2 linked regions of the Homo sapiens genome follow. The gene in region 2 interacts genetically with the main gene of each other region. Each region holds a gene or a part of one and is shown on either strand. Other genes may lie near its edges. The genes, in order: NPY4R and ERBB3.

What was found.
Region 1: changes in ERBB3 (region 2) and NPY4R together harm fitness less than expected from each alone (positive genetic interaction), as found in Homo sapiens cells (one large-scale study listed by BioGRID).

Annotation. Positions count from the first base shown.
Region 1 is NC_000010.11:46,462,962-46,467,257, forward strand, and holds the start of NPY4R (neuropeptide Y receptor type 4), read right to left. Parts: upstream 2,998-4,296; 5' UTR 2,717-2,997; intron 1,772-2,716; exon of another isoform or gene 925-1,771; 5' UTR 769-924; intron 1-768.
Region 2 is NC_000012.12:56,093,563-56,097,371, reverse strand, and holds part of ERBB3 (receptor tyrosine-protein kinase erbB-3 isoform 1 precursor), read right to left. Parts: intron 3,609-3,809; coding exon 3,476-3,608; intron 3,274-3,475; coding exon 3,183-3,273; intron 2,971-3,182; coding exon 2,816-2,970; intron 2,116-2,815; coding exon 2,062-2,115; intron 1,708-2,061; coding exon 1,566-1,707; intron 870-1,565; coding exon 750-869; intron 625-749; coding exon 526-624; intron 328-525; coding exon 142-327; intron 1-141. UniProt on the Homo sapiens protein: Tyrosine-protein kinase that plays an essential role as cell surface receptor for neuregulins.

The sequences.
Region 1 (4,296 bases), on a different chromosome or scaffold from region 2:
GATGAGGAATCTAAGACCCTGAGATGGAAAGCAACTTGCCCATAGTCACACAGCTAATTAGTAACAGGGCCCAGTTACAAACTCAGGTCATCTAATGCCAGAACTTGTTCTACTAATTCCCTCCGGCCTCAGGATGAGGCTGTTCTGATGATAAAGAAGTTGGAGTGCTGTATGCAGACTTTAGTGACGGAATTGTTCAGGGAACATGGGTAGAATGCCCCTTGTCACATTTTATCTTAATGGAGACAGCAATAAATGCCACTCTGCACAGGATTGCTTGTGTCCTTCCACGGCACCCCATTCCCTTCAAGATAGAGCTAAAGCCTCGGGGATCCACAATCAGTGCACCCTCCTGGTCTCAGCCCCTCCCTGCCCTGGTAGCCTTGTTTTTTAGGTGATACCTGGCAAAACTGAAGACTGCCCAGTATGCAAAGCCTGGCTCATCAGCACACCAGCTTCTTCCTACTACCCACCATGTGCACAGACATACCTGGCCAAAGTCACAGGTGCCCAGTGCCCTCCACAGAACCTACTCCATGACTATGTTCAAGTCACTTGATGCAGTGTGCAGCTCACAAGCACACCAGACTCTTCCACATCTCTATGCCCTGGTACAGGCTGTCCCTTCTCCGAGGACCTCCTCAGCACAACGGACCCCCTGCCAAGACTGAGTTGGAATTTAGACTCCAGAGTTCCCCCGTGTTAGTGCCAATGATGGATGTTTTGCATGGGAAGCACCATACCACTACATACATCATTGTGACTCACCTCTCAGATTCTCTAGTCATTATTAATCCCACAGGGTTGCAGTTCTCAACCTTCAGTAAACATCAGAATCATTCTAGAAGCATGTTGAAAGTGCAGATCCCAGGGCCCTTCCACCAGGAGATGTAGTTAAGTGAATCCAGGATGGGGGCCAGGAATCTGTATTTAACAAGTAGACTATGTGATTCTGATGCACATGGCCCTTGGACCCCATCTTGTAAAACACTATAGCAGAAAACCCTATTTGAGATATTCTTTAAGTCTCATATCATGGCCATATGTATTTTTTACATGATCAATTGCTATGTTAAGGCAGTTTTTGCAGAGCACAAGGCCAAAATCAACCAGAGCTCAGTAAAATCTATTTGTCGGCTGTCATGAATGTCACTTGCTGTGCATCTGATCTACTTATAAAGATGAGTTTCTAAGGTCAGGACTTCAACACCTGCCTGGCCAACATGGTGAAACCCCGTCTCCGCTGAAAATACAAAAATTAGCCAAGTGTGGTGGTGCATGCCTGTAGTCCCAGCTACATGGGAGGGTGAAGCAGGAGAATCACTTGAACCTGGGAGGCGGAGGTTGCAGTCAGCAGAGAGTGCACCACTGCACTCCAGCCTGGGCAACAGAGCGAGACTCTGTCTCAAAAAAAAAAAAAAGAGTCTCATTTGGTCATTTAAAAGATCAAGCTGTGAATTCACCTGATAGTTTACAGTCTGGTTATTTAGGAACCAGATCTCGAAGGCAGGAAGATTTCTCCAGCACTATGGTCTTCGGGCAAAAAGGGCCATTTGGGGCTGAACATGGCAAAATAAACTATTCCAGAGCCAAACACAGGGCCCAATATAAGATAAAGAACAGTCGCAGCTGCATGAACCTGTGGCAGAGGCACTGCACTCAGAAGCAGCAAATGGGCCAGAACCCAAGGCTCTGGGTGACCATCAGCAAGGCTTGGCCAGTGGTGTGGAGAAACACCATTCATCCCAAACCAACCACCTAAAGCAGGATCAGAGTGGAAGGACTGGGCTGGGAGGGCTCCAGAAAATGCTCACTGCTTCATTCACCCACTCAATAAGTGTGTGTCAAGCCCTGGGCTAGAAACAAGGGCTGCAAAGATGACTTATACAGTCATGGCCCTCCCAGAGCAGAGGGGCTGACCAGCACGAATGCAGATGGAACTCATTGCCATTGCCAACACCAATATGAAAGAGAGGCCTGTGAGTTGAGAGATCAGAGAAGGAGCAGGGAGCAGGGAGGTGAGAGAAGAGGTGGCAATGGTACAGGGCTCAAAGGCTGAAGAGGAGTCAACCAGCCAAAGGGACAGGGAGAGGAGGGAACTCGAAGTGCAAGGAACAGCATGTGCAAAGGCACAGAGGCAGGAAGGAGCAGAGCCTGCTGGGAAAAGTAAGCAGAATAAGAGGTTCCAGGGTGGCAGATGATGAAGCTGGAGTGGTGGGCCAGACCAGCAAGGTCAGGTCCATTCCAGTAAGATCACTTGGATATAGAAAATGGATTGGCAGAGAGGGCCAAGACAGGAGGAGGAGGAGCACTGAAAAGGTGGTGTTGGGCATCTGCCTGGGGCTGCTGGGCTTGGGGTACACTGACCAGTGAGGACCAGGGGACCTCAAGTCCCTCAGGCACACCCAAGGGGGTGGCGAGTGTATGAGGGGGAGGGTAGATTATTACGCAAGGTCAATAAAATGGTGTCTCTGCATTTTGTCCCCAGGCAGCTCTCCAGATACAAAAACTAGAACCAGCTGCAAGCCCCAACAGGGACCCCCTGCAGCCTGCCTTCCCAGTCAATCAGAGGAAAATTAATGAATCATACACACAATGCTAATCTCCCAGTGGGGTTAGAATAGGGAAGGCCCTTTGCTTTGTCTCCTGAAATCTCAGCAAAAGCTACTATATCCTAATGCCCATAGCGCCCAGACACCTCAGATGCACCCCTTACCTCCTTGGCTTGCGGCTTACAGGGTGCGGATGGGGCCGCCCATGTCTCAGGTGAGGAGACTGAGGTCCACAGTGGGGGTAGGATGCTCCCCAGATCCAGTGTGACGCTCTGCGCCCCGGGCCAAGGGCAGGCAGCGCGCCCGGCTTCCCGGAGGGTTCGTACCGGGGCCCACTCGGCCCCGCCCCCGGCCGCACTCCTGTGCCCAGGGGGCACCAGGCGCGGGGCAGAGCCGCGCCTGCTTCACCTGCTCCTGCTGCCCCGATGCTGCCTGCGTGCGGAGTGGAGCGGCTGCTACGCTCCCGCCTGCGCCCGCCCAGCCTGCCCCTTGCGCCCGCCCACGAGAGGGCTCCAGCCGCCCGCCTGCCCCGGGACCCCAGCACTCGCCCTGGGGAGCCGCATCTTGAGCCCCCAAGGCCTGCCCGGAACTGCAGCCCTGCCTGCGTGTGTCTCTCACGCCCACCTCAACCCTGGATACAGGCAGGCTGGAGCTGCGCTGTCTTTCTCTCTTTCTTTCTTTCTTTCTTTCTTTCTTTCTTTCTTTCTTTCTTTCTTTCTTTCTTTCTTTCTTTCTTTCTTTCTTTCTTTCCTTTCTTTCTTTCTTTCTTTCTCTCTCTCTCTCTCTCTCCCTCCCTCCCCCTCCCTCTCTCCCTCCCTTTCTCTTTCTCCAGGAGTGTTTCTCTCTGTCTAGGGGTGTGTGCGTCTGCCTGTCTCTCTCTCTCTCTGCCTCAGTTTCCTCATCCATGAAATGGGTATAAAAAGACCTGCCTTTCATAAGTTCGTCCAGAAACATTACTTGCAGACCTCCTATGAGCCTGGCTCTCCTGCTGGGCACCAGAGCTGGACAAGACAGGCTCCCTGTCCTTGGTTCCTTCTGGAGCTCTCAGCCCTGGGGGAGAAGACAGACAGGGTACAAGGAAAGAGGGAAATAAATTATTACAGGGGGTGAGATGCTGTGAGCAAATGGGTTCGATAGGCCAGATGGATGGCACAGCCACGGCAAAAGCCCTGAGGCTGGGAGCATTCAGCCCCTGGAGACCAGGGGAGGGCAGTGTGGCTGAGAATGTCAGCCAGGGTGAGGGAAGGAGATGGGCATCCAGGGTGTGAGTGAAAACTCAGGGTGGGCCCTGGAAGTGGAGTGTCTTATCTCAGGCAGTCCCAAGGTTGTGGCGATGAGAATTCAATGAGAATGGTCACTTTCTCCTTTGGAGCTGAGATGCACATGACTTGGCTATAATGGAACAGCTTTGCTTACAAGGGCTGCTCCTGTTTTGAATACACTAGCTTATAATTCCCTGCCCCCCATCCCCACATGGCAAAGTCACATATGCGCTTAGAGAACCTCCTGAGAGTAACAGATCTGCTTCAAGAGCACCTCCTAAACACTGGACATACACACCTGTCCAGTGAACCTCCTGTGGCTCCCCATGGAAATGTCCCCATGAAGTCATGGCAGTGGTCCCTCTAGAATGGCAGCTGCCGTTTGTAGTGCAGAGACTCTGCAGACACTACCTTAGTTAATCATCACAACAGCTCTGAGAGGTGGGCATTTTTATTCCCATCGTGCTGATGAAGCAAAGTGA
Region 2 (3,809 bases):
CCTAACAGGCCATGGACTGGTACCAGTCTGCAGCCCGGGGGTTGGGGACCTCACCTCTCAGAACTTCAACCTTCTCACTTTTTCCTGGCTGGCCCCCAGACAAGCAGTTCTTATCACAGAATTCCTCCAGGCTTCTCTCACCTTGGCAATTTGTACTCCCCAGTTGAGCAGCAGCTGTGGCCCCAGTGCCCCCCGGTGTTGTCTCACATGATCCAGCAGAGAACCCAGAGGCAAATATTGAGTGACAAGCTGCAGAGATGACCCTGGGCATAGTCCCAGCAGCCTTACAATGTGGGCATGGTCCAGGCTGCCAATGGCCAGCATATGCTAAGAGACACAAAAGGTATTATCTAGGAAACCAACAGGTTCACATACACTCAGCATGTGCACAGCCAGCCCAGGCCCCCCCACCCCCAACATTCTGGCTAACATAGTAGCTGCTGAGAAGCACAGGACCCTGCTTCTACATGATTGTATCTAATATTGTCCTCTCTCCTAGCGGCATACAGAATTTCCTTCACTTACATCTGTCACAGCTTGAAAACTCTGCCGTCCACTCTTGTCCTCAATGACTTTAATGCAGACTGGAATCTTGATTGATTCACCCTCAGGGATCCACACTCCCTGGGAAGTTTGGGGCAGGAGTTGGCATAAGGTCATTCTCCCTAGGTCAATCCTATGCAAAAATCTTTCACCCCTTTGCCCTAGATGCCTTCCCCACCTCTCCAGAATTCCTATGGGTCACTCACTTTGTGCACAGTTCCAAAGACACCCGAGCCAAGCACTTTAAGCTTCCTTAGCTCTGTCTCTTTGAAGATTCTGGCCAAGACTTTGTTAGCCTTCTCACTGGGGTCCAGAGGCTCTATGCTCTGAGGAGCAAATGGGAAGGAGTTACTCAGGAAAGGCCATTCCCATGTCCCACTCCAACCCGCTCCTCATAGGTGAATGCCAAAAGCAGCACAGCTGAAAGGGCAGGAAGAGGAAGCACCGTTAGTCCTGGAATGGATTATAGGCATATTGAGGTACAGACCCTGAGAACTGAGGAAGTTATTTGTGCTCATGAGATCAGGAATCAAAGGGGTTGGGTTTTCCCTTTGATGGAGGAGCACAAAGTGGGGAAGGGGACAGCTAGGGAGAGTTGGTAGTACTATTACCACCTTGAGTACCTTTTATACAGTGCTCTGTGCTTTCCAAAGCACTTTCACATACATCATCCCCCTTTACCCTTACAGCCATCCTGGAAGGACAAATGTTATTTCCTCTGTATAGATGCATAAACCGAGGCACAGAGAAGATAAGTAACTTCTTCAAAGTCATGTGGCAAATTAATGGCAAAATCAGGACTAGAATGCATGCCTCCCATTTCTCTGACCAGTGTTCTTCTAGGGGACCACACTACTTCCTTGAAGAAAGGGATCAAATCTCTGGGGAAAGAGGAGGGGAGTGACATTTATCCCATCACTGACCCCTGGGTGCACAGGGTACCACTCAAAATTAAGCTATAAAGAGACTTCCAGGACATGCAAAAAAAGAAAAGAAAAAACAAAAGTAAGCTAAGTACTCACCTCACCCCGTTCCAAGTATCGCCTCATAGCCCTTTTATTCTGAATCCGGCGCCCACGCCAGTAGAGAAAAGTGCCGCCCAGCATCATGAAAATCACTACCAATCCTGCTATCACTGTCAAAGCCATTGTCAGATGGGTTTTGCTATGGGATATATAGAAACCCAACATTATCCTGGGTTTGCATCTTCCTTACAAATGTCAACTATACTTGTGTTGAAGGTATGATGCTGACCTGGGGCAAGAAATTAACATTCACATATATATCCTTAAGCACTGAAGGGACCAACCTAAATCTGGACCAGTCTTAGACTACTGAAAGTTAATTTTAGGAAGGGAAGTCCAGAAGCCTGCATTCTTGAGTCCCAAGTGTCCAGTGATAGTGGACTGCATACATAAAAGGCCAGAATGAAGACAGCCTCCCTCTTCTCTCCAGGTAACCACCTCTCTCCCAACTCCCAAATATCCCCAGTTTCCAGAATCTCCAACCCCATCATACCCGATCAGCACCAGTGTTTGTCCTAAACAGTCTTGAAGCTCTGGTCCTTTACACCTAGGGAAGAAAGTCACCACCTTAAATGAGAGCTTGGACAGCAGAGGCTCAATTTCAACAGCCTAACATATAAAAGCTTGTTTCAGAACTTACCGTGGCATCCCATCCTGGAGCCCAGAGCTGATCCCAAGACATGGCCTCCACCTCCAGCTCACTAGCTCTCCCCAAGCCCCTCTTCTGTGAAACTCCCTTGAACTGAGGTTATTCCAGGTTCCCAAAACTGTGGTGTAATTTTGTGCTGTTACTGATTTTCCCTTTCTCCAATCCTTCGCTACACAGCTGGGAGTGATTCTTTTTTTTTTTTTGAGACAGAGTTTCACTCTTGTTGCCCAGGCTGGAGTACAATGATGCAATCTCAGCTCACCGCAACCTCTGCCTCCTGGGTTCAAGAAATTCTCCTGCCTCAGCCTCCCGCGTAGCTGGGATTACAGGCATGCGCCACCACGCCGGGCTAATTTTAAATTTTTGGTAGAGACAGGGTTTCTCCATATTGGTCAGGCTGGTCTCGAACTCCCGACCTCAGGTGATCCACCCACCTCGGCCTCCCACAGTGCTGGGATTACAGGTGTGAGCCACTGCGCCCGGCCAGCTGGGAGTGATTCTTGAATCACAGCCTCTCTCTTCTTTCTGCTTCCCTCACTCTAGTTCTGTGCTCCTACCCTTCCACCTGACCCCCTCTCCTTATTATCCCATCACTGACCCCTGGGTGCAGTTCTCATGGCAGGGCCGACATTCATTCTGAACATCTGGGTACTTGTAGATTGGGCCCTTGGCACCTAGGACTCCATGGGGGCAGCTGCTCACACAGTGGGGCCCATCTCGAAAATGGGCACATTGAGCACAAGTATCAGAGCCCTGAGTGGAAGAGAGAAGGTCAGGAAGAATCAGATCCCAAGGTCAATTCCATACCTCCCAGCAAAGACCAACCCAGACATTCAGGATCTTCTATCTGCAGGCCCTAGCATTATCTGGCCTCTCTGTGCTATCCTTAGCCATATCATTCCCCAGATGCTCCAAGTATTGCCCCTTCTCTGTCTCCCTTGGAGATCCTGGTGCTACTAGTATACCGAGCCATTGCATGTGGCAGTGCCCTCCATGGGTTGGCATTCCGGGTGGCAGGAGAAGCATTCGGCCTCATGGGCAAATTCTCGAGGCTCCCTGTAGTGGGGAATAAAGGGAGGGGGGGGTCACTTCCAAGTCCTGACCTTCATGCTCCGATCTCACAACCACAGGTCTCCTACCTCAATCCCACCAAGGCACATGCAGAAAGCTGTCTAAAGACTTTTATTGTATGCCACCTGAACAGTTCCATTGCAGGGCCCCACCCCCACCCATCCTTGACTGGCTCCCCTTACTGTACCCATTCAGAAAGTTGCAGTGGGTCACACAGACACCTCCTCGGCTATAATTTCGACAGGACAAGCACTGACCAGGGCCTGGGCCCCAGCATCCCCCAGAGGAGCACAGTGGGTCACACACTTTGCCCTCTGCCACTGGAAAGGAAGGGGTGGGTTAGGAGAGGAGTCTGAGGACTCCCAGCAAGCCCTCTCTTCATTATTCTTCCTCGTTACTGCTTCCAGCCTAACAGCCCCCTTCTCCTTGGTTCCATCCCTCAACCCTACTCCCACGTCTAGGGCAGAATAGTCCTTTCAGCCCTCTCCTCCCTGACTCCCTATTCTCACCACCTAGCAGAC